7 linked regions of the Homo sapiens genome follow. The protein of the gene in region 1 purifies or fractionates together with the protein of each later gene. This does not show direct contact. Each region holds a gene or a part of one and is shown in the gene's direction. Other genes may lie near its edges. The genes, in order: RBM25, SART1, CHD4, SRRM1, SNRNP70, FAM76B and SUPT16H.

The links.
Region 2: the proteins of RBM25 (region 1) and SART1 purify together in Homo sapiens (affinity purification with mass spectrometry; 2 studies listed by BioGRID, with this or other methods). This does not show direct contact.
Region 3: the proteins of RBM25 (region 1) and CHD4 purify together in Homo sapiens (affinity purification with mass spectrometry; 2 studies listed by BioGRID, with this or other methods). This does not show direct contact.
Region 4: the proteins of RBM25 (region 1) and SRRM1 fractionate together in Homo sapiens (co-fractionation; 3 studies listed by BioGRID, with this or other methods). This does not show direct contact.
Region 5: the proteins of RBM25 (region 1) and SNRNP70 purify together in Homo sapiens (affinity purification with western blotting; 2 studies listed by BioGRID, with this or other methods). This does not show direct contact.
Region 6: the proteins of RBM25 (region 1) and FAM76B purify together in Homo sapiens (affinity purification with mass spectrometry, with the first as the bait; one large-scale study listed by BioGRID). This does not show direct contact.
Region 7: the proteins of RBM25 (region 1) and SUPT16H fractionate together in Homo sapiens (co-fractionation; one large-scale study listed by BioGRID). This does not show direct contact.

The regions. Positions count from the first base shown.
Region 1 is NC_000014.9:73,109,955-73,114,233, forward strand, and holds part of RBM25 (RNA-binding protein 25), read left to right. Parts: intron 1-876; coding exon 877-1,201; intron 1,202-1,354; coding exon of another isoform or gene 1,355-1,470; exon of another isoform or gene 1,471-1,573; coding exon 1,574-1,848; intron 1,849-2,197; coding exon 2,198-2,296; intron 2,297-4,279. UniProt on the Homo sapiens protein: RNA-binding protein that acts as a regulator of alternative pre-mRNA splicing. Involved in apoptotic cell death through the regulation of the apoptotic factor BCL2L1 isoform expression.
Region 2 is NC_000011.10:65,964,444-65,968,722, forward strand, and holds part of SART1 (U4/U6.U5 tri-snRNP-associated protein 1), read left to right. Parts: intron 1-71; coding exon 72-127; intron 128-648; coding exon 649-775; intron 776-898; coding exon 899-1,004; intron 1,005-1,258; coding exon 1,259-1,336; intron 1,337-1,443; coding exon 1,444-1,543; intron 1,544-1,632; coding exon 1,633-1,775; intron 1,776-1,906; coding exon 1,907-2,113; intron 2,114-2,815; coding exon 2,816-2,940; intron 2,941-3,027; coding exon 3,028-3,143; intron 3,144-3,235; coding exon 3,236-3,378; intron 3,379-4,279. UniProt on the Homo sapiens protein: Plays a role in mRNA splicing as a component of the U4/U6-U5 tri-snRNP, one of the building blocks of the spliceosome. May also bind to DNA.
Region 3 is NC_000012.12:6,576,380-6,580,658, reverse strand, and holds part of CHD4 (chromodomain-helicase-DNA-binding protein 4), read left to right. Parts: intron 1-1,741; coding exon 1,742-1,813; intron 1,814-1,937; exon of another isoform or gene 1,938-2,106; intron 2,107-2,112; coding exon 2,113-2,250; intron 2,251-2,521; coding exon 2,522-2,630; intron 2,631-2,741; coding exon 2,742-2,874; intron 2,875-4,279. UniProt on the Homo sapiens protein: ATP-dependent chromatin-remodeling factor that binds and distorts nucleosomal DNA. Acts as a component of the histone deacetylase NuRD complex which participates in the remodeling of chromatin.
Region 4 is NC_000001.11:24,666,952-24,670,970, forward strand, and holds part of SRRM1 (serine/arginine repetitive matrix protein 1), read left to right. Parts: intron 1-31; exon of another isoform or gene 32-136; intron 137-2,171; coding exon 2,172-2,636; intron 2,637-3,168; coding exon 3,169-3,364; intron 3,365-4,019. UniProt on the Homo sapiens protein: Part of pre- and post-splicing multiprotein mRNP complexes. As a component of the minor spliceosome, involved in the splicing of U12-type introns in pre-mRNAs. Involved in numerous pre-mRNA processing events.
Region 5 is NC_000019.10:49,102,451-49,106,556, forward strand, and holds part of SNRNP70 (U1 small nuclear ribonucleoprotein 70 kDa), read left to right. Parts: intron 1-976; exon of another isoform or gene 977-1,137; intron 1,138-2,183; coding exon 2,184-2,285; intron 2,286-4,106. UniProt on the Homo sapiens protein: Component of the spliceosomal U1 snRNP, which is essential for recognition of the pre-mRNA 5' splice-site and the subsequent assembly of the spliceosome. SNRNP70 binds to the loop I region of U1-snRNA.
Region 6 is NC_000011.10:95,772,155-95,776,433, reverse strand, and holds part of FAM76B (protein FAM76B), read left to right. Parts: intron 1-410; coding exon 411-512; intron 513-4,279. UniProt on the Homo sapiens protein: Negatively regulates the NF-kappa-B-mediated inflammatory pathway by preventing the translocation of HNRNPA2B1 from the nucleus to the cytoplasm.
Region 7 is NC_000014.9:21,377,298-21,381,576, reverse strand, and holds part of SUPT16H (FACT complex subunit SPT16), read left to right. Parts: intron 1-4,279. UniProt on the Homo sapiens protein: Component of the FACT complex, a general chromatin factor that acts to reorganize nucleosomes. The FACT complex is involved in multiple processes that require DNA as a template such as mRNA elongation, DNA replication and DNA repair.

The DNA.
Region 1 (4,279 bases):
GCTCACTGCAGCCTCCACTTCCCAGGCTCCAGGGATTCTCGTGCCTCAGCCTCCTGAGTAGCTGGGGTTACAGGCACGTGCCACCACTCCTGACTAATTTTTGTATTTTTAGTGGCGACGGGGTTTTACCATGTTGGCCAGGCTAGTATTAAACTCCTGACCTCAAGTGATCCGCCCATCTTGGCATCCCAAAGTCCTGGGATTACAGGAGTGAACCACCGTGCCCGGCCTTTTTTTTTTTTCCCTGAGACAGAGTCTGGCTTTGTTGCCCAGGCTGGAGTGCAGTAGCGGAATCTCTGTTCACTGCACCCTCTGCCTCCTGGGCAAGTGGTCCTCAGGCCTCTACCTCGTGAGTATCTGGGACACTTACAGGCATGAGCAGAATGCCTGACTGAATACTTTATGCTTTTTTGTAGAGATGGGGTTTTCCTGTGTTACCCAGGATTGAGCCACTGCCCATGTCCTTTTTTTTTTCTTTTTCTTTTTCTTTTTTTTTGAGATGGAGTCTTGCTTTGTTGCCCAGGCTGTAGTGCGATTCTGCAAGGCTCACTGCAACCTCCACCTCCCAGGTTCAAGCGATTCTCCTGCCTCAGCCTCCTGAGTAGCTGGGATTACAGGCGTGCACCACCACACCTGGCTAATTTTTGTATTTTCAGTAAAGACAGCGTTTCACCATGTTGGCCAAGCTGGTCTCAAACTCCTGACCTCAGATGATCTGCCCACCGCGGCCTCCCAAAGTGCTGGGATTACAGGCATGAGCCACCATACCTGGCCTTTTCTCTTTTCATAAAGATATTTTACAAGAGGTAATGTAAAACAAAAATCAAGTTGAATGGTGTAGAGTTGTAGTTAATCAGATTATTGTTTGGGTTTTAGATGGAACAAGAGGCTGAGAGGCGCAGGCAGCCACAAATAAAGCAAGAGCCAGAATCAGAAGAGGAGGAAGAAGAAAAGCAAGAAAAAGAAGAAAAACGAGAAGAACCCATGGAAGAGGAAGAGGAGCCAGAGCAAAAGCCTTGTCTGAAACCTACTCTGAGGCCCATCAGCTCTGCTCCATCTGTTTCCTCTGCCAGTGGCAATGCAACACCTAACACTCCTGGGGATGAGTCTCCCTGTGGTATTATTATTCCTCATGAAAACTCACCAGATCAACAGCAACCTGAGGAGCATAGGCCAAAAATAGGACTAAGTCTTAAACTGGGTACGTTAGCATTTCCTTCCTTCTTTATTTTCTTCCCTTCACCCCTGCAAATACCTGTATTGTGCTTTAAAGAAAAAAATTTATATTTGTGCTTGGTTAGGTAGATAGAAGATTACTAAAAAATGCCTTTCTAGCTCACGATTGTTTTCATAGTTTTACTAGTGCTCCTATATCTGCAGCTGCCTCGAGTTCTGAGAAGAAGTGAAAAGTTTAATTTTCTAGCACTTGTGAGTAGTGAGTTATTTTTTACAGTTGGGATCTTTCTCTAAGATTTGTGGAAGTATATTTTGCATTGCTTTTGAGGGATGGTGGGTTATAAAATGAAACATTTGGAAATTAAGTCATCTTGCTAAGAGAGTGTTTTTACTGTAGGTGCTTCCAATAGTCCTGGTCAGCCTAATTCTGTGAAGAGAAAGAAACTACCTGTAGATAGTGTCTTTAACAAATTTGAGGATGAAGACAGTGATGACGTACCCCGAAAAAGGAAACTGGTTCCCTTGGATTATGGTGAAGATGATAAAAATGCAACCAAAGGCACTGTAAACACTGAAGAAAAGCGTAAACACATTAAGAGTCTCATTGAGAAAATCCCTACAGCCAAACCTGAGCTCTTCGCTTATCCCCTGGATTGGTCTATTGTGGATTCTGTGAGTAGGAAATTATATTTCATCATATTATTGGGAACAGTTGGAATATGCCATACAAATTCATTTGAAGAAAAAAAAACCTCATTTGATTCTATTAATGACAAATAAGTAGGGATGATCATCTTGACACCAACTCAATGCCATGGTCAAGAAATTAGTAATAATGGAAATTTTTTTTGTGCTACTTGAAGACTTACTAAAAGCAGATGATTGTATCTTGATACATATCTGTCTTAGTTCAACTTGTGAAATAACATTATATTTTAGTCTCAGGAAAAATCATGAAGCTTTAATAACTGTTATAGCAAGTTACAATTCTTTAATTCAGTAACCGTGGTTTGTTTTGCAGATACTGATGGAACGTCGAATTAGACCATGGATTAATAAGAAAATCATAGAATATATAGGTGAAGAAGAAGCTACATTAGTTGATTTTGTTTGTTCTAAGGTTAGTCTTCTATTCTCTTCCATGCCAGCATTTATTTTATATATTAAAATATTAGACACTTCTTAAAAGAGCAGAAATTTTACAGAGTCAAGTTCCATGATGGTTTAGGTTCAGTTAAGTGATTTATATCTGCTTTTTTAAAGTTATTTTTATTTTTGGTGTGTTTTTTTTTATTCACTGCAGTGGATGCAGATTTATGTCTGCTTTAATGAACCTTTCCATCCAACTTCAGACTCCTCACACCACATGTTTTTATTTCAGTGGTCGAGGAGGATGGAATTGCTGGTTACTGCCAATTGTGTGCTGTCTTTCTGCCCCTGAGAATGCTGTGCCATCTTCTTCTTGTCTTGGTTGGAATAATTATGTTGAGATTTTTTGGACGTAGCCAATATCTTTTCCCAACTCCTTTGTCAGTCACCCATCCTTTGGATAGGATCAAAATAGTTCCTTTCATATCGTAGTAACGATCAGTGTTTATTGACTGACAGGCTGTGTTCTCGGCAGGTATTGTGTTAGTTTTGTTTGTTTTGTTTTGTTTTGTTTTTTGTTTTTTGTTTTTGTTTTTTCTTTTGAGTCGGAGTTTTGCTTTGTCCTACAGGCTGGAGTGCAGTGGCGCAATCATGGCTCACTGCAGCTTTGAACGCCCAGCCTAGACTGATCTTCCTGCCTTAGTATCCTGAGAAGCCGGAACTATAGGCATATGCCACCACACCCTGCTAATTTTTTTTTTCTTTTTTTGTTTTAAATTATACTTTAAATTCTAGGATACATATGCATAACGTGCAGGTTTGTTACATAGGAGTACATGTGCCATGGTGGTTTGCTACACCCATCAACCTGTCATCTACATTAGGTATTTCTCCTAATGCTCTCCCTCCCCTAGCTCCCCACCCGCCGACAGGCCCAGCTGTGTGATGTTCCCCTCCCTGTGTCCATGTGTTCTCATTGTTCAGCTACCACTTATGAGTGAGAACATGTGGTGTTTGGTTTACACCAGGCTAATTTTTTGTATTTTTAGTGGAGATGGGGTTTCACCATGTTGGCCAGGCTGGTCTTGAACTCCTGACCTCAAGTGATCTGCCCAAGTTGGCCTCCCAAAGTGCGGGGATTACAAGGCGTGAGCCATCACACCAGCCGAAGATAAAGTTCTATAAAATGTTAACAAGACAGTGGCCCACGCCTTGTAATTCCCGCACTTTGGGAGGCCAATGGGGCAGAACACTTGTGGTCACGAGTTTGAGACCAGCCCGGCCAATATGGTAAAACCCCGCCTCTACTAAAAAGTCAAAAATTGGGTGCGCTGGGTGGCAGGCACCTGTAATCCCAGCTACTCGGGAGGCTGAGGCAGGAGAATCACTTGAACCCGGGAGGCGGAGGTTGAAGTGAGCTGTGATTGCGCCATTGCACTCCAAGCCTGTGTGACAAGAGTGAGACTCTGTCTCAAAATAAAAAAAAAGAAAAAAGAAAAACTTCTTTTAACCTAACACTTAGAATCTGTCTGTCATGAATGTTATACCCATTTTATACATGAAGAAATTGAAGTTTAAGGAGAGATTGTGTCTTGGCTATGTTTTATACTGAGTCTAGCCTCTGAAACCCATGCTCTTAACCACTAAGGTATATCTTCCCATTGTCTCCTGAAAACATAGTCTTAACTTTAATAAAACAGTTAACATAGTAGAAACACCATATTTCTATAAAGGTATAGCTATGGTATTTTTTTGCCAGTAGTGCTCTTTTGATATTATGAACAGTAAATTTACTCTGTCTTCTCTAACTTGTAATTATTGTGGCATTAAAACTTGTGTGAGATTTGACTTAAAATTAGACTACAGACCACTATGGAGATTAATATTCCAGGTTTTGGTGCCTCTTTCGTTGAAGAATGATATTCTGAAAATTAAAACATTTATAGAATGGTTCCTTAGCCGCAAGAAGTTCCTGTATGAATTTGAGGATTCATACCTTAAAATTTCTTGACTG
Region 2 (4,279 bases), on another chromosome or scaffold:
TGTCTGTCTGGAAATGCACATGGCACCCTGTGTCTTTAATAGCCCCTAACACTTGTATCTCTTGTTGTCAGCAAACTCCGGGCAAAGTTGGGGCTGAAACCCTTGGAGGTTAATGCCATCAAGAAGGGTGAGTATGGGGCTGAGGATAGGGTTTGGGGGAAAGAGGCCATCTGAAGGGGTCTTTGAAGAAGGTGGGGTTAGAGGGCAGGTTCAGCACTGTTTAGTGGTCTTACACATGCATATTTGCCGGAAGGCATGAGGTCCCTCCTTGCTGGTATAATGGGGATCTGGGGCTCCGCCTGCTCTCTGAGTTGGAGCTGTGGCCGTCGCATACTCACTCTGGCTGTGAGTTGTTAGATGGACTGGAAGATGTGCACACTTGCTGCAGACTGCGCTGTGCGGGGGTGGGTTTCTTGTTTTTCTTTAAAGCACGATTTGAGGGGCTTTGGAAGCCACAGAGGGTCCTGTTGTGCTGCATGGGTTGGCCAGGAGTGTGGGGACGAAGTGGGAGCAGGGAGGTGAAGGATTGTTCCTTCCTGTCCTGACCCCTTCTGGCCCCCTGAGCTGGAAGGGGGCAGGGTGAGTGGCTCCCTCCTCTCCCCACCAGCCATGGGCGGGCATAGCCTCACGTCTGGGCCCCCCTTCCAGAGGCGGGCACCAAGGAGGAGCCCGTGACAGCTGATGTCATCAACCCTATGGCCTTGCGACAGCGAGAGGAGCTGCGGGAGAAGCTGGCGGCTGCCAAGGAGAAGCGCCTGCTGAACCAAAAGCTGGGGTGAGGGGTCCTGGCCAGGGCAGGCAAGGGAAGGGCTGGGGAGGCCACCATCCTTGGCTGCCTCTTGAGTGGGGTGGGGAGCAGGAGCTGGGCTCCTTGAGCATCACTTTTTCCCCTCTTCAGGAAGATAAAGACCCTAGGAGAGGATGACCCCTGGCTGGACGACACTGCAGCCTGGATCGAGAGGAGCCGGCAGCTGCAGAAGGAGAAGGACCTGGCAGAGAAGAGGGTGAGCACCTGGGCAGCATGGGGTGGTCGCCTAGTGCTTCTGGTGGCCTGACGGCACTGAGGCGGGGGCCAACCCCAGAGAGGTGAGACGGGGCTTGGAGAAGGGAAGGGCCGTGGTCGGTAGCATCTACTTTGGATTCTCAGCAGCTTTCCTGCAAGGCCTGCCCTTTTTGCACTCCGCTTGGTAGAGCCCTGAGTGTTTTCTGGTGATGCTGAGTGGCCTGAAGTCCTAGGTCACCCCTCCCTGTCCCGTAGGCCAAGTTACTGGAGGAGATGGACCAAGAGTTTGGTGTCAGCACTCTGGTGGAGGAGGAGTTCGGGCAGAGGCGGCAGGTGAGGCTGCAGCAGGGGTGGTACAGGGGACACTGGTGGCCTTGCTACCGGAATCCCGAGGTTGGGTGCGTGGAGGGAGGTTCCTGACTCGCCGATTCTTCCCTTAGGACCTGTACAGTGCCCGGGACCTGCAGGGCCTCACCGTGGAGCATGCCATTGATTCCTTCCGAGAAGGGGAGACAATGATTCTTACCCTCAAGGACAAAGGTAATGCGAGCTGGGTGCCCTGGGTGGGGGCACAGCCTCTGCTGAGTTGCGGACAAGTGTGAATGGCCACTGCTCTGTGCTGCCCCCAGGCGTGCTGCAGGAGGAGGAGGACGTGCTGGTGAACGTGAACCTGGTGGATAAGGAGCGGGCAGAGAAAAATGTGGAGCTGCGGAAGAAGAAGCCTGACTACCTGCCCTATGCCGAGGACGAGAGCGTGGACGACCTGGCGCAGGCACGGCCTGGGCAGGCTGGGTGGCGGGGGCTGAGGTGGAGAATGTCGGGAATGGGGGCTCTGAGGAGGTGGTGGCTCAGTGGCTTTTCAGGAGCCAGCCTGGGTCCCAACCTGTACCTCTTGCCTTGCAGCAAAAACCTCGCTCTATCCTGTCCAAGTATGACGAAGAGCTTGAAGGGGAGCGGCCACATTCCTTCCGCTTGGAGCAGGGCGGCACGGCTGATGGCCTGCGGGAGCGGGAGCTGGAGGAGATCCGGGCCAAGCTGCGGCTGCAGGCTCAGTCCCTGAGCACAGTGGGGCCCCGGCTGGCCTCCGAATACCTCACGCCTGAGGAGATGGTGAGCCCTCCCGTGCCTTATACTCGGGGTCAAGATTCTCCCTCCCTCTGGGGCTCCTGCCCTGCCCGCAGGCACTGAGAAGACAGGGCGAGTATTTGTGTTCACAAAGCGCTTGGCCTCGCGGGTGAGCACTAAATGGCAACCGGGGGAGGCACCAGGTGTGGATGGGTCAGGGCTGCTGAGCCAGATGGGCCCCAGTCTGTTTCGGCTCTGCCATGCTGCCAGCTCGTGCCTTGGATAAACCATTTAACTGTGAGCCTGGGGCACCCCATCTGGAATGGCAGTGACAGGAGCCGCCTCCTGAGGTTGCTGTGAGGATGAGTGACAGCGTGGGTGAGGGGTGACTGGAGAGGTGTGCGTGGATTCTGTCCACAGGGTGACTGTGTGAACGTGAGGTAGACAGCTGGCGCGGTAGGCGTCTTCCTCAGTGGGTAAGAGCAGGACTCTGGAGCCAGACTGCCCAGCTCTCCCACCTAGGAGCTGGGCAACCTTGGGGAAGGTACTTAACCTCCCTGTGCCCCAGTTTCCCTAGCTCACCAGTGGAATTGAGATAGTAACCACCCCACATGTTGCTCATGTGTGGGAAGCGCTCAGGACGCTGGCTAGCACAGAGGAACACCAAAGAAGTGTTCACCCTCGAGGGCTTGTGGCGACCTGCCTTTCTGTGGCCCCCGCTCCATGTCTCGCCCCTCTTCCCTTAAGGTGACCTTTAAAAAGACCAAGCGGAGGGTGAAGAAAATCCGCAAGAAGGAGAAGGAGGTAGTAGTGCGGGCAGATGACTTGCTGCCTCTCGGGGACCAGACTCAGGATGGGGACTTTGGTTCCAGGTGGGCTTGGACACGGTGGTGGGGCGAGATGGCTGGGCTGGGGTGGCCTGGGGACCGGTGCTCACCAGAGAGGCCTCCTTCCCTCAGACTGCGGGGACGGGGTCGCCGCCGAGTGTCCGAAGTGGAGGAGGAGAAGGAGCCTGTGCCTCAGCCCCTGCCGTCGGACGACACCCGAGTGGAGAACATGGACATCAGTGATGAGGGTGAGGGCCCGGCCAGGGGGTGGGAGGGGCAGGGACAGGAGCCGCGGGTTGGAGGAGATGGTCTGAGCAGGCATCCCCTGTGTTTCCCCCAGAGGAAGGTGGAGCTCCACCGCCGGGGTCCCCGCAGGTGCTGGAGGAGGACGAGGCGGAGCTGGAGCTGCAGAAGCAGCTGGAGAAGGGACGCCGGCTGCGACAGTTACAGCAGCTACAGCAGCTGCGAGACAGTGGCGAGAAGGTGAGGCTGGGCATGGGCAGGGTGACTGCGTCAGCAGTCACCTGTCCTCACGAGCACCTGTGTCATAGGCGACAGCCACATTCCTGTCTGAAGCCTCTTTTCCATTTGTTTTTTGTTTTCTGGGTTTGTTTTTTTTTTTTTTTTTTGAGACAGAGTTTCGCTCTTTCGCCCAGGCTGGAATGCAGTGGCGCAGCCTCAGCTCACTGCAACCTCCGCCTCCCAGGCTCAAGTGATTCTTATTCCTCAGCCTCCTGAGTAGCTGGGATTACAGGCGCACGCCACCAGACCCGGCTAATTTTTATATTTTTAGTAGAGACGGGGTTTCACTATGTTGGCCAGGCTGGTCTCCAACTCCTGACCTCATGATCTGCCTGCCTCTGCCTCCGAAAATGCTAAAATTACAGGTGTGTGCCACCGTGCCCAGCCCTCTATTCTGTTTAAAGTCATGTTTTGCAAAAATTTTTAGATGCCTGCTTTAGTAGGGGATCCTTTCCTTGCCTCTCTCTTCTGTGCATGTTTGTTGAATGCCTGCTGTGAGTAGTGCATTGTTCTTGGGCTGAGAAGGTCATTGGTGAACAGGATAGCCATGGGGCCCTGGGCTCATGGAGCTGGCTTTCTAGAGTGTGTGGGGGAGAGCGTGGGGAGCAGCAGTGACTGTTAATGCAGGAACGGTAATTTCTGATGGTGGTGGGAGCTGGGCACTCAGTAAACCAAGATAACGTGCCGGGGGTTGGGATCTTAGATGGGAGAGTGCAGGGAAGACCTTTCCAAGGTACTAGTTCATCTGAGACTTGAGTCACACAGAGGAGCCAGCCTTGCGGGGGGTTAGGGGTGGCAGCAGGTGGACAGGCTGGCATTTAGGCAGTAGACCAACCAGCAGGTGTCTCAGGAGAAGTGACCT
Region 3 (4,279 bases), on another chromosome or scaffold:
CTCGGCTTACTGCAACCTCCGCCTCCTGAGTTCAAGCGATTCTCCTGCCTCAGCCTCCTGAGTAGCTGGGATTACAGGCATGTACCACCATGCTCAGCTAATTTTGTATTTTTTAGTAGAGAGGGGGTTTCTCCATATTGGTCAGGCCAGTCTCCAACTCCTAACCTCAGGTGATCCACCTGCCTTGGCCTCTCAAGGTGCTGGGATTACAGGCGTGAGCTACCATGCCTGGCCGGTATCCATATTAAGCACTACAGATCCCTGTGTGAACCATGGTCACTCGTGAATTTTTGCTGGGGCTGTAGAGATATCAGGAGGAAGCGACACACTGAAGAATCCTGCACCCTTGATTTTAGGTGGCAGGTTTTCCCCTAACTTAAGGTATCTCTTATGACTTTATTTGTTGTTGTTGTTGTTGTTGTTGTTGTTTTCGAGATGGAGTCTCACTCTGTCACCCAGGCAGGAGTGCAGTGGCACGATCTCTGCTCACTGCAACTCCCGCCTCCTGGGTTCAAGCGATTCTCCTGCCTCAGCCTCTGAGTAGCTGGGATTGCAGGCGTGCCACAACCATGCCCACGTAATTTTTTTTTTTTTTTTTTTTTTGAGACGGAGTCTCGCTTTGTCGCCCAGGCTTGAGTGCAGTGGCGCCATCTCGGCTCACTGCAAACTCCGCCTCCCGGGTTCACACCATTCTCCTGCCTCAGCCTCCTGAGTAGCTGGGACTACAGGCGCCTGCCACCATGCCCGGCTAATTTTTTGTATTTTTAGTAGAGACGGGGTTTCACCGTGTTAGCTAGGATGGTCTCCACCTCCTGACCTCGTGATCCGCCCGCTTTGGCCTCCCAAAGTGCGGGGATTACAGGCGTGAGCCACCACGCCTGGCCAAAATTTTTTTTTTTTTTTTTTTTGAGACGGAGTCTTACTCTGTCACCCAGGCTGGAGTGCAGTGGCACGATCTTGGCTCACTGCAACCTCCGCCTCCTGGGTTCAAGTGATTCTCCTGCCTCAGTCTGCTGAGTAGCCACCATGCCTGGCTAATTGTTTTTTTTGTTGTTGTTTTTTTTTTTTTTGAGATGGAGTCTTGCTCCGTCGCCCAGGCTGATGTGCAGTGCAGTGGTGTGATCTTGGCTCACTGCAACCTCCACCTCCTGGGTTCAAACAATTCTCCTGCCTCAGCCTCCTGAGTAGCTGGGATTACAGGCATGCGCCACCACGCCCGGCTAATTTTTGTATTTTAGTAGAGATGGGGTTTCACCATGTTGGCCAGGCTGGTCATGAACTCCTGACCTCAAGAGATCCACCCATCTCGGCCTCCCATAGTGCTGGGATTACAGGTGTGAGCCACCACGCCTGGCTAATTTTTGTACTTTTAGTAGAGACAGGGTTTCACCATGTTGGCCAGGCTGGTTTCTAACTCCTCACCTCAGGTGATCCACCCACCTTGGCCTCCCCAAGTGCTGGGATTACAGGCATGAGCCACCGCACCCAGCTAATTTTTGTATTTTTAATAGAGATTGGGGTTCACCTTGTTGGCCAGGCTGGTCTTGAACTCCTGACCTCAAGTGATCTGCCTGCTGCTGTCTCCCAAGATGCTGGGATTACAGGCATGAGCCACCATGCCCAGCTGACATTACTGTAATTGCAGACATTTAGATGTGGGTCTATCCAATTGGATAATAGTGTGCAACAGAGGAGAATGTTCTTCCTTTAGGTATAGTCTCAATAACATTTCTTCCCCTAGGTGCTGCTGATGTAGAGAAGGTGGAGGAAAAGTCAGCAATAGATCTGACCCCTATTGTGGTAGAAGACAAAGGTGGGTGTTTGGAGAAGTTGATTGTGGTTCAGAAGAACTCTAAAACCAGAAGCAAGGACTGTATCTGCCCTGCCTCCCTGTCCATACTCATCTAGCCATTTTATCCCAAGATAAAAGACTGTACCTGTCCCCACATTTAGTTGTCAGTGGGCCAATGGCACCATTTTCTGGGTCTGAGAGACACCCAGGTGGAGAAGGGGTGTAGGTGGATGGATTCTTGTAGCATACAGTGTTCTGGGTAAGGGCGATGGTGCTGGGCTTTGGCTGGAGCTGACATTTTTCTTCCCCATATTCTGTAGAAGAGAAGAAAGAAGAAGAAGAGAAAAAAGAGGTGATGCTTCAGAATGGAGAGACCCCCAAGGACCTGAATGATGAGAAACAGAAGAAAAATATTAAACAACGTTTCATGTTTAACATTGCAGATGGTGGTTTTACTGGTATGGAAATGAGGGGCCCACCAGGGTTAGAAGGATCTGATGTGAAATTGGGGTTCTTGTCAGAAACCACGGTACAGGGACTTTACCTCTTTACCTCTGTTTGATGAGGGAATGCCAAACTGATAGTGGGTTCTGTGGAGAAAGCCAGAAGCAAATTATATGAAATGGATCCAGGGGTAGGGGATGGTGGGGGACAAGAATAAGTAGCTTTTTCAATTCTCACAGATGTTTGCTTCCCCCCACCCCCAACCTTCCCTAAATTCCTCCTCAGAGTTGCACTCCCTTTGGCAGAATGAAGAGCGGGCAGCCACAGTTACCAAGAAGACTTATGAGATCTGGCATCGACGGCATGACTACTGGCTGCTAGCCGGCATTATAAAGTATCCTTTGCCTGAATCTGTACTGAGGCTTTTGGTGAAAGGTTCTGAAGGTCTTTTAGTTTGAGGTTCTTACTTTCCTTGTTTTGTTTTTCCTGAGCACTTTTCCAATAGCCATGGCTATGCCCGGTGGCAAGACATCCAGAATGACCCACGCTATGCCATCCTCAATGAGCCTTTCAAGGGTGAAATGAACCGTGGCAATTTCTTAGAGATCAAGAATAAATTTCTAGCTCGAAGGTTTAAGGTGAGCGGTTGGGGAGGAATATATTGCTTAAGTGACAAACTTGAAAGTGCGTAACGTCCTGCAGCAGAGGGAGTCTGTCCATCCAGCGCACTGTTCTCACTTTCTTCATTCTATGGAAGGCTTTGCTCCCAAGTAACTTACACATTAGGGTTGAAGACACACAGAATTGAAAGTTAACTAACTGTACATGAGCTGTAGGTGACTATGTGTCCAATCAGTGACACACTAGTGCAGAGGGGTTTGTTTGGGGAACACTGCAGATTGGAGTATTCAGGAAAGATATAGAGGTGGGATTGAATTGCATCTCTGAAGATGTAGAGCTATTAGTCAGTGGGCTGCTGGTTGTTTTTTTTTTTTTTTTTTTTTTGAGGCAGAATCTCTGTCGCCCAGGCTGGAATGCAGTGATGCAGCCTCTGCTCACTACAACCTCTGTGTCCTGGGTTTAAGTGATTCTCCCGCCTCAGCCTCCTGAGTAGCTGAGATTACAGGCGCCTGCCACCACACCCAGCTGTTTTTTTTGGATTTTTAGTAGAGATGGGGTTTCACCATGTTGGCTAGGCTGGTCTCAAACTCCTGACCTCGAAGTGATCCACCTGCCTTGGCCACCCAGATTGCTGGGATTATAGGCATGAGCCACCATGCCTGGCCTGGTTCTTTTTTCTGGGCTAAAAAGTGCCTGTGTGGGCCAGGTGCGGTGGCTCACGCCTGTAATCCCAGCACTTTGGGAGGCTGATGCAGGAGAATCGCTTGAAGTCGGGAGGTAGAGATTTCAGTGAGCTGAGATCGTGCTACGGCACTCCAGCCTGTGCAACAGAGTGAGACTCTGTCTCAAAAAAAAAAAAAGACGTGTCTGTTGTCTCGTACGCTGAGTATAATCGGGGAAGAAATGGTACACTAATAAGCCTTCAGGTATTATGTACTAAGCAATGATGTGCCCAGGGATAAAAAGACAAAGCATGGTATCTGTTTTCAAGGAGCTTTCAGTTTCAAGTAGGAGCACATGTGTAATCAAATGAATGCCATTCTGCATATCAGGAGAGAGATTGCTGATTGGCATAAGAAAGTTCTCCAGAATCGCTTGAACCCGGGAGGCGGAGGTTGCAGTGAGCCGAGATCGCACCACTGCACTCCAGTCTGGCGACAGAGCGAGACTCACCTCAAAAAAGACAAGAAAAGAAAGTTCTCAGAGAGGCAGACACAGTGGCTAATCTCAGCATTTAAAAGAGCTGATTGCTTGAGTCCAGGAGTTCAAGACTAGCTCGGGCAACATGGCAAAACCCCATGTCTACAAAAAATACAAAAATTAGCCAGTTCTGGTGGCGTGCACCTGTAGTTCCAGCTACTTAGGAGGCTGCAATGAGCCTAGATTGTGCCATTGCACTCCAGCCTAGGCATTGGAGTGAGA
Region 4 (4,019 bases), on another chromosome or scaffold:
GCATCTCCCCAACTCCCCCCGCCCCTGATAACATCAGATGAGTAATGGTGCTCACTTCCTAACAAGGTTGGAGAGAGGCACAGCTCATGTGTGCATGTGAAAACCCAATCATCATGCTTATGAACTACAAAAGGATCTCTGAATCTTTCTGATGATTATATCTTATTAGAGTAAGCAGACTAGCATTGTTCAGCCAGTCATAAAAGAACACGTATGATTCCATCTATATGAAAAGTCTAGAATACACAAATCTATAGAGATAGAAAACAGATTAGGGTGGGGTGGACATGGGGATGGTAATAGCTGCAGAACTATATGAATATACTAAAATCATTTAATTGTATACTTTAAATGGACCTTAAATGGGTAAATAGGTAGATTTTATAGCAGGTGAATCATGTATTGTCATAAAGATGTTAATACATTAAAAGATGGTATTGACTAGTAATTGTAAAGAGAAAATTTAGAGGATACTGGCAGATATCTCTTACCTAAATAATCAAAGATAACATCCTCAATAAAACATTGGCATCGTGTATTTCCTGGATACCTCTGTAGTATGCTTACCAATTATGCCAAACCTCAGTCTTATTATTAGGAAATAATCAGACAAACCCAAATTGAAAGTCATTTTACAGAATACCTGACCAGTATTCAAAAGTGTCAGTCATGAAAGACAATGACAGAAACAGTCACAGATTGGCAAGAACTAAAGAGATGTAGGGTCCTGGAGCAGAAAAGGAACATTGATTAAGTCCTGGAACAGAAAAGGGACATTCAGTAGTGGAAAACTGGGTTGTTTGCTATTTTAGTAATACTAAGTTATCACTGAGGTTCATTTTACAGTTTTGCTAATTTTCTTATGGTTATATAAAATATTAGCATGGTGAAGTGGCAAATCTCCTATTTTTGTAGCTCTTCTTTACAACTATTTTAAAGTGAAAATTAGGGGAAAATGTTTTAATGTCATTGCTCGGATATGTTGCCAAGCAATGTAATGACATGCTGCCACTCTTTTTTTTTTTTTTTTTTTTTTTTTTTGAGACAGTCTCACTCTGTCACCCAGGCTGGAGTGCAGTGGCCGATCTCAGCTCACTGTAACCTCCGCCTCCTGGGTTCAAGCGATTCTCCTGCCTCAGCCTCCCGAGTAGCTGGGATTACAGGCATCTGCCACCACACCCAGCCAGTTTTTGTATTTTTTGTAGAGATGAGGTTTCACCATGGTAGCCAGGCTGGTCTCAAACTCCTGACCTCAGGTGATCCGCCTCAGCCTCCCAGAGTGCTGGGATGACAGGTGTGACCCACTCTGCCCAGCCTGGCTGCCACTCTTGAATGCCTGTTAAGTGCCAGGCAAAGTGCTAGGTGCTTTATATGCTTTACTACTAGTCTTCAAAGCGACCTTGCTTGATAGTTGGTATTGTTTGCATTTTTCAGGTGAGGAAATGGGAGTTGAGAATTACTAAGTAATTACCCAGATACAGTGATGAAATTGTGCCCTACCACATTGCCAAAATATATGGCCTATTGTAAAGCTAACTCTGGGCAGGAATTTACTTTGATCTAAAAGTCTGCAATATCCAAGAGGAAATTAGGCAGTTTGGCCTGAAAAGTGGCCTTTTGAGACAGAAAATGGAACAGTCTCTTTGAGGGGAGGTAGAAGTGTCTTTAAGGCTTGTGCAGTGAACTCTTAATTATTCATACAGTGTCCAAATGCTCATTCAGAGAGGATACCACATAGGAGACCTCTTTAAAGTGCAGACTTCCTAAGGTGACCATAATAGAGTTTTGCTAATACAGTTACTTGGTTATTATATAATAACTGATGTTCAGTTAATACAGTGCAAGATTCTGTTTTCAAAAAACGTTAATTTTGTATAGATGTTAAAAGATTGACAAATTCACATCTTCTGAAAATTGCAAATTTTTGTTAATCAAAATGTCTTTTTTTCTTTTTTGTACTTAGTCCTGCAGACAGTGTCCTGTGTTGCAGTCAGCTGAGATAAACAAGTTTTATTGATATTTAAGTGAGAATATAAAGATAGCATGTTCACTTATAAATATATTCCCTTTGCCTAGTGCTAACTACAGTATAGCCAAACCTACTGATTACTTTTCATCCTGTTTCTGTATTTTGTTGAGCCTTTCAGCTTAATTATGTATCTTTTTCCTAGGACTCCTTCTCCTCCCCCACGTCGGCGCTCACCTTCTCCTAGAAGATACTCTCCTCCAATACAGAGGAGATACTCTCCTTCTCCACCTCCAAAGAGAAGAACGGCTTCACCTCCTCCCCCTCCTAAACGAAGAGCATCACCATCTCCACCACCAAAGCGGCGGGTCTCCCATTCTCCACCTCCCAAACAAAGAAGCTCCCCAGTCACCAAGAGACGTTCACCTTCATTATCATCCAAGCATAGGAAAGGGTCTTCCCCAAGCCGCTCTACCCGGGAGGCCCGATCACCACAACCAAACAAACGGCATTCGCCCTCACCACGGCCTCGAGCTCCTCAGACCTCCTCAAGTCCTCCACCCGTTCGAAGAGGAGCGTCGTCATCACCCCAAAGAAGGCAGTCCCCGTCTCCAAGTACTAGGCCCATTAGGAGAGTCTCCAGGACTCCGGAACCTAAAAAGATAAAAAAGTAAAAATATTTTATGCTTTTCCATTAGGAATACTTACATAGCTGTTTATATTTGGAAGCTTCCCCCCACCCCCATATAAAAGGAATAAGTTATGAATATGAGCTTTTAAGTCAAACTTGAGGTACTATTTACAGATCTTATTCCATTTTTTGGGATAGTTTCTGTGGTATAAGTTAAATGCCACAGGCTTTTACTTGGTTCTTAGCAGTTATTAATTTGTTTTTGAGGGGTATGCTTCCAAAACTAAACTTGAGTAAGACATTGAACATTTCTTGTGTGTGATGTAAGGAACTGACATTACTAATCTTACATAAGAAGCATCATTAACAGAATAGATAGAGGATTATGGGGCTTTAGCCACCCTCTGGGAAACATAGGTAATGTAAATTGGATATATGTTAGTTGAATCAACCAGCAATCTAAGTGGTATATTTGAAATTCATAACCTGGTTGTACAGTGTAGTTGGTGGTTTTCTCATGTGAAGAGAGATGGCTGTTCTCAATGCTGAATGTTTTTTCCTTTTTGTCTAGGGCTGCTTCCCCAAGCCCACAGTCTGTAAGAAGGGTCTCATCCTCCCGATCTGTCTCCGGGTCTCCTGAGCCAGCAGCTAAAAAGCCCCCAGCACCTCCATCCCCCGTCCAGTCTCAGTCACCGTCTACAAACTGGTCACCAGCTGTACCGGTCAAAAAGGCCAAAAGCCCAACACCGAGCCCATCACCGCCAAGAGTATGTGTCTGCCTTATTTTGGACACCCTTTTATAAATATGTATATGGTCACTTTGAAGCAGAGAAAATGTCATTGGGGCATTAAAATATTGGTGTTTAAACTTTTTTTCCCATTTGTGAGTTATACATCTGATCTTGGGCAGGTTTCTGTATTGCATAAAATCAGTGGTTAGGTGTCCATCTGTTTTTTGTTTGTTTTTGAGACAGGGTCTCATGCTGTCACCCACGCTGAGTGCAGTGGGATGATCATAGCTCACAGCAGCCTTCCTGGACGCAGGTGATCCCTTCGCCTCAGCCTCCCAAGTAGCTGGGATTATAGGCACATGCTGCTACACCTGGCTGGTTTTTTGTTTTTAACTTTTTGTAGAGACAGGGTCTTGCTGTGTTGACCAGGCTGATCTTGAACTCCTAGCCTCCAGTGATCCTCCTGCTGTGGCCTCAGATGTCCATATTTAATTGGGTTGACTGAATAGTTGTGCAAGCTAACTTGTGAGGAATTTTAAGTAATTGCTTAGAAGTGTGAAATTGAAATATTATGGATTAAATTATAGGAGCCTGCTTTTTGCATAAATTTGGTATGTGTGTCATGAGGAAGAACCAGTCATCCCCACTCTAAAGATAGGAGAGCTCAGATGGTAGCTAGAGACATGGCATT
Region 5 (4,106 bases), on another chromosome or scaffold:
GACCCGGCTTCGTGATGTCAGCGGCGAGGTGGCAGGAACACCGAGGGCAGGGCTCCAGGCCAGGGCTCCACTGGAGCCCTTCAGCCTTCCCTCCCTGCCCCCGTGCTTTCTATGGGGCTGCTACTGTGCTGGCCCTGGAGAGTCTTTTTGGCTGCTAGTTTTGGGGTGCTCTGCCCCCTTTCTGTCTTCCTTACTGTGGTTGAGGCCTCCCGAGGGGGCTGGCTGTGGTGTCCAGCAGCTCTCCAGAGGTGGTCAGGAGCTCCCTAAAGTGCATGGAATTGGGGCTTGGGGTGTGGGAGGGACCAAGGGGTAGGCTGCTAGCAGCTGAAGGTGTCGTAGGTTTTTACTAAAGAACCTTCCACTGTCTAGAGACTTGAGAGAGGGAAAGAGAGAGAGAGGCCTAGACGAACACAATCACATGTTTTCTTTGCTGTTCCTCCCGGGATGGGCCTGTTTTGGGGTTTGGGACTCTGAACCCGAGCGGGGTTCCTTCGCTTGACTTTGATCCTGGTCCTTAAATGCCTTTCCCCACTCCCCTCCCGTGGGTTCAGGGGCCAAGCGGCCCCTCCTCAGAGCACGGGCAGCACCGTCTCCTGGACCCCTGTGTGCCAGCCTCTGCAGACGCAGCTGGTGGGAGGGAGCATGGATTTGGAGGTGGAGAAGTCACTCCTGGTCCTCGGAGGGGGTGGGCTGTGTGCCTAGTTCAGTGTGACTCGGGGATTGGTGAGGGCGGACAGGTTTCTGAGGCCTCCCTAGCCTTCTTTGTAAATTCACACGAGATAGTCCAGGGCTTTCCAGCGCCCAGCTTGGATGATAATCCTCGTCTCCCCCACTCTAAGGCCTCCTTGAGATTTCTTTGGGGTCTACCACGTCCTCTGCCTGTCTCCAGGTGGTACAGGAGATGTGGTTCCTCTCCCTCTCCTGGCTCCCTAGAACCCCCCACTTCCCCTCCCTGTAGCTTTAGCTGACCCCGTGGTGGTGGGTGTGGGGTCTGTGCGCGTGCTCAGGTAAGCTTGGGGGCTCCAGGTAAGCGGTCCCGTGTCCCCCCCCCGGGAAGCCCGCCTCCTCGCCAGGCCCCCAGGAGTTGCCGAGCCCCCCCCATCCCGCTCGGTTTGGACACCCGCAAGGCCGGCATCGGTAAATGGCACCTTTTTCTCTTCCTCTGGTTGTTATTTGGGGGGGAGCGGGCTGGGGCGGGGCAGGGTATTACGGTTGGTTGAGGACAGCCCCCTAGGCCAGGGCTGGGTGGGGGAACGGGGACTTTTTGGCCTTCATGACAGCCCCACGTTGATCACAGGCCAGGGCCTCAGGCTTGCCTTCTGCTACGCGCTGCCCGAGAGCAGCAGTGAGCCTCTCCCCCGTCTCCCCTCTACGACTCCCCTTTCCTGGCAGGCTCAGGCTGGGGTGCGCTCCCAGCACGTGTTGAGCCGGGGGTGTGGAGGGCGAGATGGGGCAGGGCTGGGGGGAGGCAGAGTCAGTCGTCTCAGGTAAGGCAGGGATTTTCAGTAGCACCGCACGGCTCCCCATGCTTCCTCCACTGCCCCTCTCCCCTGCTGCAGGGGCCCCGCCAGGCCCCCTGGGAGTGTATAACCCGCCTCTCTGCTCCCTGCCATTTCCTGAAGATTTCTCCCACCCCCTTCTGGTTCATTTTCTGTTCTGATGTCTGTTCCCCCCACACTCACCCCCCTCCAAAAAAAACAAAAACAGAAAAAACCGGTGTGGTCTGGGGTGCGGAGCGTCCCAGCTGGGCCTCCTGCCCCGGCTTGGTGTCTCAGGGTGCATGCTTGGGGTTGTGGAGGAGCCCCCTCCCCCACAGCAGAGTCCAGCGTGGAGTTAACCTTCAGTTTCTTTGCAGCGATTTTGGCCGCCCTGGCGGGAGGGGGCTGTTCCATCATGTGGGAGAGGAAGGGCCGGGGAGCCTAGGGGGTGGCGGGTGAGGGTGGACGTCTCCCCCGACCAGGAGTGGTTGGGGCGCTGAGAGGAAGCAGACGCTGAGATGGAGCAGGCCCTTCACCGGTTTGGGAGAGGGTTGGTCTGGCTGTCAGTTGCCTGGCTGTCTGTTGGGCGTGTGCGTGTGCGTGATGATGGGGACACGGGGCGGGGATTCTGTAGAGCTGGGCCTGTCCTGACTAGAGGACCCTCTGGGGACTCCTCTCCCCTCCCCCTCCCCACATCTGTTACAGCCGCTTACAAACACGCAGATGGCAAGAAGATTGATGGCAGGAGGGTCCTTGTGGACGTGGAGAGGGGCCGAACCGTGAAGGGCTGGAGGCCCCGGCGGCTAGGTGAGCACATCCTGCCTTCGACGGGCTCTCGGGGGCCCTGGGCCTGGTGGCCTTGTTCTCCCTTCTCTGCTGCTTTCTGCTTCTCTGTCTCCTGCCGGCCCACCTCTCCCATCGCGTCCTCATCTCCGGCTTCTCTCTCTTGTGGCCATCACATTTCTGACAGCTGCCTGCCTCCTCGTTCTGGGTTACTGTGAGGAGCAGGGGCACCAGCCTGGAGAGGCCTGAGCCCACATGCTGGCGTCCGCCCTTGCTAGCTGGGGGTCCCCTTTTCCTGCCTCATTGTACTCCTCTTAGTGGAAATAACCCCGAGTTCACTGAGCTCAGTGTACTGGGCGCCCAGCTTGGCAGTGACGCATGCTGGGGTTGTAAATGTCACTCGCTCATCTGCTTCTGCTGCTTGCTGTTGCTCTTGTTCACTCTTTTACTGATTCAGCAAGTACCTATTGGATCACCAGCTGTGTGCCGGGCTTCTAGTTGAGCAACACAGAGGCAGCCTCTGCCCTCTGAGCCTCCTGCATTCGGTCTCCTCATTGTCATTTGCTGTCTCAGGCAAGGTCAGTTTGGCTGCAAGTATCAGAAATAAACTTGAGCTTCCTGAAACATAAAGGGCCCTGTTGATGTAGAATCATGGGCATCCTTTGGAGTTCGGAGGTATGTGATGTCCGTGGACCTGAGAACCTGGTAGCTGACGCTGTTAAGAGCTGGGGCAACCAGGCCAGGCGTGGTGGCTCGCCTGTAATCCCAGCACTTTGGGAGGCCGAGGCGGGTGGATCATGAGGTCAGGAGTTCGAGACCAGCCTGGCCAAGATGTTGAAACCGCATCTCTACTAAAAATACAAAAATTAACTGGGCGTGGTGGCGGGTGCCTGTAATCCCATCTACTCGGGAGGCTGAGGCAGAGAATTGCTTAAACCTGGGAGGCAGAGGTTGCAGTGAGCCAAGATAGAGTCACTGCATTCCATCCAGCCTGGGTGCCAGAGCAAGACTCTGTCTCAAAAAAAAAAACAAAAAACAAAAAAACTGGGGCGACCCACCTGTGATGTGTGACAGCCCACAGCTTGCTTCTGCCTCGTTTGCCTCCATGCAGCTAGGTCGGTCCCATGCCTCTTTGCACTGGCCCAGCGCAGCAGGCCACAGGCCCCAGCTTTACACTCAGTCCTGGATGAGTCTCTTGTTTCGGGGTGGGCACATTTGATTGACTCAGTGTTGGGCCTGGGGTCCTGTTGCTCAGGCATGCTTATTGAGGACTGAATCCTGCAAAGCTGAGTGACAGTTGTCAGAGAAGATGATGGTCCCTGGGCAGACACCCAGGCAGTAGTAGCCACTTGGGGCTCCTGTCCTGCCTCCCAGCCCTGTGTCCTGGCTCTGGACTCGCCTGTGCTAGGGAGACCACGCTCTCAGCTGCTGAGCCTCGGAGCTTACCAGGCATGTTCTTACCTTACTCTGGTCTCTCTGGGGTGGAGTGGGTTCTTATAGCTCTGCTGTTTCCTGTTGGGGCGGGAAAATGCTAGAATCTCAGTCTTTCCAGAATCTCAGAATCTTCTAGTTCAATTGCCATTCAAACTTTTTGTTGGTGTTAGCCAATAACATCTTGACTCGGTGCACCCGCAGAAATACTGTAACCTAAAGTTTGAGGAAACAGTTTTTTCTATGTAGTAAGTATATAGTTGTATTCTGCTGTTTTGTTTCTTAAGATGTTGGTTGCAACCCATCAGATTGATGATGGGACTCATTTCTGGGTCATGACCTGAATATAGGAAAGGCTAGTCTAGCTGCCCTGTGCCTGTGACATGGCAGGTGCCTGGTCCGCTGCCTGCTTCT
Region 6 (4,279 bases), on another chromosome or scaffold:
GCATTGAAAGATTATTTTACGCATAAGCTAGTTTAAATGTTTATATTGTTTTTACTATTATTGAAGTACATTTTTAAATGAGGCATTTTCCCAGTTATTAGCCGTTAAGCTTTTTTCGTTGGCATACCAGTTGCCAAACTCTATTTCCAGTCGAGCCATGTTTAGGAAAAAAAGAAAACTGAGAAGTTTTACTGATGGTCAGGTATTAACATTAAAATTATACTATTGTGAAGCAGATAGACTTCATCATTTCACCAAACAAACTTTAGATAGCTTGTACAATTCAGGAAACTGCAGTTAACATCTTCTACTTTTGTAATGAAATGTGAGTTTATTGTGAAAGTTATTTAAAATGGTGTGTGTGTGTATGTGTGCAAATATATACATATATTTTTTCTTTAATCTCTCAGTTAACTGAACTAAAGGCAGACTTTCAGTACCAAGAGTCAAATTTGAGAACAAAAATGAACAGTATGGAAAAAGCCCACAAAGAAACTGTGGAACAACTTCAGGTAACTACCATCATTTACGTAAAATGATAGGCAAGAAGGGCTAAACTTGAGTAATAGCATTCATTGACTTAGATTGTTATTGGTAGCCCTATTTTGTGCATAGTTGGTGCATTTCAGTTTTGATTTTGACTTTATAATCATTTTTAATCTTGATCTCATTAGAAGTTATTGTTTGAAATTACTTGAAAGGGGGATTCAGTACTTTAATCTTGAAAACTTTTGCCTAAACTTCAAATGGAGTTTTTGGAGGAGGGTATCATTGGAGTGTGTTCAATTAATTATTGGGCTTATAGCAAAAAATTAAAAATCAGATTAATGAAACTAAGGTGAAAAGCAGGTCTTCAGTAGCAATCATTCCTCACATTAATATTTCCTTCCAGATAATGGGAAAGGAGATGGGTGTATAAAACCAATTCTTAAGGACCTGGAGTGGCAAAAATGTGTGCAAAGCAAGAGAGTTTACTTAACCTGTGTACAGTGGTTCGCAAAGTGCCAAATAGGGTTCTGCTAAATGCTAACAGGTAGTGATCCACCTGAACCTCAGAGTACTGCAAAGTAGCAGTTTAAGTATACAGAACAACTGAATGGTAAAGTCAAGAGTCACCACAGTAATAATCTGATGTCTGGCATGCAGAGATGGTGAACATCCAACATGGATACAGAATGCTACCATATTAAGCTGCTTCTCTTCTAGGTTTCATACATTTAGAAATCAGACCACACTAAATTAATTACATGTTCTCTTTGATTTATACAGTCTCACATTTGTAAAATTAGTCTTTAGTAACAAAATTTTTAAGGTGAAAGAAGTTTTAAATGTTAATGGAAGATGGCAGCACACAGACGTCAGACTTGGGAGAGTACAGCTTCAGAAGGAAGGAGTTAATACTGTCCTGTTTCATTTTGTTTTTTTTTTTTCACATTGTAACACCAAAGGATATTTGCTATTTCTTTCTTTTGGTTTTGTATTATTCATACTTCTTTGCAAGTAGCTTAAATTAGTAGGATTTAGGAACTTGCTCAAATTCGAGGTACAGATTATCTGGTCTTAATCCCTATCATACTATTACAAAGACTGTTGAAAAAGGAACCTCATGTAGAACCTGAGACATAGTAGGCATTCAAATAATTTGTTGACTAGGTGGTGATTTATGGAAATGCCCATCAGCCCTCTGTTCTGAGAGATTGCCCGTATCATATATCAGATTCTTATATATTAGTCAATGTTTTTATCCACCAGCAAGTATTATTTTTAATTTTATGTTATTCCTGTTTTTCTTACTCAGTTATTAATGCTGAATGATTACCTGGAACAAAATCTTCCACCTGGTGATCTTTGATTTAATGTAATGTAACCAAAGCTCTGAAGTAAATCCAGAATGAGATAACAGAATAACTGCAATAGGTGCTCAGATATGTTTTAACTTAGTGCTCCCCACTGTTCAAAAGAGCAGTTTGTGTGTTGGTTTTTCTTTTTTAAAATCATAGTTGCAAATACATGGGGTCATCTTTGACTTAGCCTGATAGATATCTTAGGCCTACCTCCTCTTGGTAATTGAAGTTTCATGTAGTATAAAAGTAACCAATATTTAAATAGGACATTTTGACATGATTTTACATATGCTGTCTTACTTGTTGCAAAAACTGGGTTATGTGATATGCCCATTTTACAGAGGAAACTGTGATCACACAGTAAGCGGTGACGTAGAAATCTCTGTCTTCTCACTCCAGTTTATCTATACTTTTCCCTGTCCTACACTAGTTCCCACCACTTCAGGTTCCTCAGGTTTTCTATTTCATCCTTCCTATCAGGCCACTTCCCTGATTTTTTTGTGTTATGGCTAGAGACAATCTGTCATAGCTGAGTGCCATCTTTTTACCTCACTTCCTTTAGCAACCAAGTGATACTAGTAGGATTCTTTACTGAGGTGAGGAAACCGGTAATTTTTTTTTTATCTTTATGTAATAAGGAATTGAATCCTGTGACACAAGATGGATCTTGCTCTAATAGCTAGTAAAATATTTTTAACTGCCAAACCTACGACAAAACACTGAACATCACATGAAAAAATTGTTCAAAATGTCACCCCAAAATACCCCAAATATTGAAAATACTAAGAATATCAAGTTAAAACTCTTATTCACTTAATTAGGTAAGTGGTTAAAAGGAAAAGGGACCTAACATTTGAGTGCCTTCTGTGTACCAGGAACTGTGTTAGGCTAAGTGTTTTATATATTTGATAAGTTCCTTCAACTCATTTTGAGTTCGGATGGTGGAGTTTGTGTTACAAATGAGAAAATATGCTCCAGGTTATGTAGCTGGTAAGTAAGCCAGGATTTAAAGCAGGATCTATGTAATTCTTAATCCTGATATTCTTTCCTTTGCACCAACATGTCTAAACTTTAAAACTTAGCTTTCTTAAGAGTCTGTAAAGAATTTCATTGATTTTTTTTTTTTTTTTTGGCTGGCTGCAAAATGAAGTAATTTTAGGATAAAACAATTTAAATGTACATATATTGAAATATGGCATAAAATTCATTTTTAAAGTATTCAAATTAGAATAATTTGGACTTGTACTTAACAATTGTGTTATTTATTTACCATAAAGACTTTTGTCTTATGTAATTTATTAAGAAATATCTTTATTAGTGATATAAATATATTAAAAGCAAATTGGAAATTAGCTACCAAAGCATTAAATGGAAAAATTGCTTTGAAGACCTAATGTTCAAATTATTGTATTTTGTACTTAAAATATGAAAATTATAAACACTTTATTTCTTGATAATTGAGATAAGAACTTGGAGATTCACATTTTAACTATTTTGTATCAGTATAAACATTTTTAGATAAATATAACTTAACAGATCTAGTGGAGATCTTTTTGAGTCAAATTTGCAGACTCAAAATTTGAAATTGATACTGAATTTGAAATTGAAGTTTTTCGTTACCACCTTAGTTATTAATAACCACTGAATAGGAAAGTTCTATTGATCATGCATCTGAACATAAAAAATTATTTGATTTGCACATATAAGATAGTACTGAGAATATTTGCATTTTAGAGGTCATGGGTGTTAATTAGCAAGAGTGATTGGAGAAGAAGGGTGGGGGAATGGAAGAATAAAGTTTGAAAAAGGTTATTTCATGAAACCACTTTAAGATGGCATACAGAGAAGGCAGAGTGTTATCTGCCCGTAAAAAGCTAAAATTAGAATAAAATATGAAGTACTGAGATTAAAAAAGTCTGTCTATATAATAAAAATTCCTGGAACCTGTGAAGGAAAATGGTGTTGAAACATAAGTCAGAGGATATCTTTTTAAAATGTGTTAATTTTAGGGCAGTGCTCTATTTTCATCACTTTCCCCATTTTGGCTCAAACTACAAAAATGCTTGATCATTAATGTATTTGTATATATAGGGATCCTTACTATCTAAGTTTTCATATTTAAGAGACTGAATAAGGTGACAAAGGCAGTCAAAATGTGAAAATATTCACTGTACTTACACATTCCTCTTCACTAAACTAGTGATGGATGGACATTTAATAATGAAATTCAAGTCAGATGATGAAATGAAATTTTGAATCTTTGTAAAAATTCAAGCTTTCATGAGATAGGAAATGATGATGTGGAACTGCTCAAACCACACTAAAATCAGTGTCAGATGACTGGTAACTAAAGGAACAACAAGATAATGAGTGGTTCTGATGGGTGCTTTAAAAAAAATTGAATATCATTGGGTGCATTTGGCAAAGTAACAAAT
Region 7 (4,279 bases), about 52 Mb from region 1:
CTTAAAAAAAAAAACTGTTATGACTAAAATTAACTAAAAAATGATTTGGGCTCCAAACCCACTTTTAATTTTAAATACTCTTGATTATAAGCCCTTAAAAGCTGTAGTGGTTGAACCTGGTAGTTCCAGCAGTCCAAATACAAGTACACAGGGTTGTAGAGAACTGATAGGCTACTAAGCTTTTTCTTCCCTTTTTTAAAAATAAGAATAGGAATTAACCTTACCTATCTGCAAGTTAATTTTCAGTTAGGTACATATTTTGAGGCTATTGCAAATAAAATATTTTTTAATTATAATTTTCATAACTTATGTCCTAAAAACAATTGTAGTTACCATGTACTTTTAACTGAATAGAAATTTCAAAAATATTAAGCCCTGTATCTAAGTAAATCGTGTCATTTTAGAGATGGGAAAATGGAGTCAGTCAAAAATCAACAGGAGACCTTAGAACGTACTATTGTTTTATGACTCCTGGAGGTTTGAGTCTAGATCCAGTCTTGCCTCTTATGTTTTAAGTGAGAGCTGCTAAGAGCAGAAAGGATTTGCAGCACCTTCTCTGTATTATTAGAATATCGCAGGTGGTAGTGGTGGTTCCTGGAAATGGGCTGCATGTTTCTTTGTCCTCTTATGCCTACTAGATCCTTCTTCAGGGATTGCCAGCCTTTTCATGATTACGATTATTTTTAACCAAGTAATATGATTAGTGCTGGTCATTGGGAGAAACAAAAGAGGTTATCTACCATCCCAGGGTTCCAGCTGCCTTGAGGGCTGAGTGGTACAATATCCAGGCATATCTGTATATCATTTGAGACCTACCTGTTGGGACATTCTGATATGAGTGGACCTTGACTTCATCTGCCTTTTTTCTTGAAGAATTCCATAAAATGTCAAAAATATTTGTTTTCAGAAGGAATACTCACATTCTTGTGAGCATACACCAACTGTCAGGATTGGGGTAGTGGAAGACTGACCCCAAAGAAATTTTATGCCTTTGAAGAAACTAATGAATTAAAGTGTCAGTGCTTCTCTTGAGTGGAGCTTTCTGGCTCTTTGCAGATTTTTATGGTGGCTTAGTTTCTTGTTCTGGGTTGTTCTATTAAGATTCAACAGCTATGTTCTGTGGCTCAGGAAGGATTTTAAAAAATACATAGTAGCTTATGCCTGTATAATCCCAGCTACTCCAGAGGCTGAGGTGGAAGGATTGCTTGAGTCCAGGAGTTCAAGACCAGCCTGGGCAACATAGTGAGAGAGAGCCCATTTCTTTAAAAAAAAAAAAAAAATTCAGTCTTCCATCAGTATCTGTCAGGGATTGCTTCCAGGACATACCTAGATACCTAAATCAAAGGATGCTCAAGTCTCTGATAACAAAATGGCATATTTGCATAGCCTATGTATATCCTCCCATTATTTTTTATTTCTAGATTACTTATAATACCGAATATAGTGTAAGTGCATGTAAATAATAGTTATACTTATTTTTTAGGGGGTAATGACATAGAAAAATGTTTGGCCATTTTAATTTTCAGTACACAGTTGAATCCACAGATAAGGAGAGCCAGCTGTATAGGCATTTCCTGTTATTTCAGTCAGGCAGTGGATTACTTCCACTCACACTCAGCTCTTAATAGCTCCTTTATCTCTGGAGTGGGATAGAGAAAGGTTTTTTTGTTTGTTTGTTTGTTTGTTTGTTTGTTTTTTGAGTTTCACTCTGTGGCTGAGGCTGGATTGCAATGGCACAATCACTGCTCACTGCAGCCTCAACCAAACCAGCCTCAGGTGATCTTCCCACCTCAGCCTCCTGAGTAGCTAGGACCACAGGTGCATGCCACAACACTTGACCAATTTTTATTATTATTATTATTGTTATTTATTTTATTGTATTTTTTGTGGAGACAGGGTTCCACCGTGTTGTCCCAGGCTGGTCTCAAACTCATGGGCTCAAGCGATCCGCCCACCTCGGCATCCCAAAGTGCTGAGATTGCAGGTGTAAGTCACTGCACCTGGCCAAGAAACTTTTTAATAATGCTGAGTAAGGAGGGTTAGATGGAAATAAATGCCCAGATGGATTGAGATTTTTTTTTAAATATTGCTTACTCAGCTTTTATAGTCTAGTTCTCTACTTTTTTTTTTTTTTTCTTTTTTTGAGACAGTCTGACTGTGCCACCCAGGCTGGAATGCAGTGAAGCATTCTCAGCTCACTGCAACCTCTGCCTCCCGGGATCAAGCAATTCTCGTGTCTCAGCCTCCTGAGTAGTTGAGATTACAGGTGTGTGCCACCATGCTCGGCTAATTGTTGTATTTTTCGTAGAGATGGGGTTTCACCATATTGGCCAGGCTGGTCTCTAACTCCTGGCCTCAAGCAATCCACCCACCCCAGCCTCCCAAAGTGCTGGGATTACAGATATGAGCCATCACACCCAGCCCTAGATCTCTACTTTTTATATTTACTTTTTATCCCTATTAACAACTACAGTGCCTGGCATATAGAAGTCACTCAGTGAACAGTGGTAACTGATTATATGGGTATTTAGCTACAACCAGACTGCAAAAATACTTTCTTTTTTTAAGGCAGTATCAGTTTGGTTCAAAGGAAGATAGTTGTTCTGCTGCTGCACTATTTCTCCAACTTTTATCATCCAGATACCACCTTCACAATTTTTGCAGATTCTTTGCCACCTGTTTTATATTTTATTTAACTCTCACTTTCAAAATTATTTTAATCAGTAATAGATATAGTTTTTTAAAAGTCATAGTTCTAATAAAAGCCTTAAAACAAAAAGTCACCTATCCCAGAGGCAACCACTTTGAGTTTTTTGTTTCTTTCATATTTCTAAATAATATCTATATATACTGCTATTTCTTGATTTGTGAATTTTTAACGGTTATTAACTTATGGTAAATCTGAATTTAACTTCTTTGTGTCATCACACTCATTCCAACTTCCCTACCTCCTGATACCTTAACATTTTTCTCCTGACACATTGATATGAAAAATTTTAAAGACAGAAAAGTTGAAAGAATTTTAAGTAAACCCTTTATACCCACCACCCCACACAGTTAACATTTTGTTGTACTTGCTTTATCACACATCCATCCTTCTTCATAACTTTTCCCCACAATTTTTAGTAAAATAAGTAGTTACTATTTACATTGTTTATGTTCATATAGATGTTTTCACTGCTGGGTGAAGTAATAAAGTATGATTAACTTTCCTTTTTTTCTACAGTTTTTTATTTTTCCTGGCATTAATGATTTCCTCAGTTTTTCTCCTTTAAAAAAAGTCTCCCTAGCCTTAATTTTTTCCAATAAATCTATTATAATGTTACCAGTCTTTTATTCTAAATTTCTCACACTCATAGAATTTTCTTCTGTTTCTTAAGAGCAACCTCACTCCCCACTTCCACCCCCCACATTATCCTGTTACCAGTCTTTTATTCTAAATTTCTCACACTCAGAATTTTATTCTGTTGCTTAAAAGCAACCTCACTCCCCACTTCCACCCCCCACATTATCCTGCTCCATCTGTATAGGTTACTCTTTAGGCCTGTTGAACCTCGGGACTTTGCAATATTGGGTCCCCTATATCCAAGAGCCTCTGCTTTGTTTTTTCTTTAGCACATTTTCTCTAAGAACTTCGTAAGAAAAGATGGGCCAGGCGCAGTGGTTCATTCACGCCTGTAATATCAGCATTTTGGGAGGCCGAGGTGGGCAGATCACTTAAGGCCAGGAGCTCAAGACTACCCTGGCCGACATGGCGAAACCCCATCTCTACTAAAAATACAGAAATTAACCAGGCATGGTGCCACATTCCTGTAATGCCAGCTACTTAGGAGGCTGAGGCACGAGAATCGCTTGAACCCAGGAGGCAGAGGCCACAGTGAGCTGAGATCGTGCCATTGCACTCCAACCTGGGCAACAGAGTGAGACTGTGTCTCAAAAAAAGAATAAATAAAAAGCTCACCACTAGCTCCACTGTAACCCCATGCAAAAAAAAAAAAAAGGATGCATAGAATATAAATGTCTTCAGCCCTTGCATGTCTTAAAGTGCTAGTTTGCCCTCACTTTTGGTTAATAATATAGTTAACCAAAGTCAACTCTATTGGCTTTGTTAATGCAGTAGGTATAAAATTCTGTGTTGAAAATCATTTTTTGCTCAGAATTTTGAAGCCATTATTTGGCGTCAAAGACTTCAGTGTTACTTTTGAGAAGGCTGATATGATTCTATTTCCAGTATACATACATAGCCTGTTCTCTCTGAAATTTAGAATCATCCCTTCTG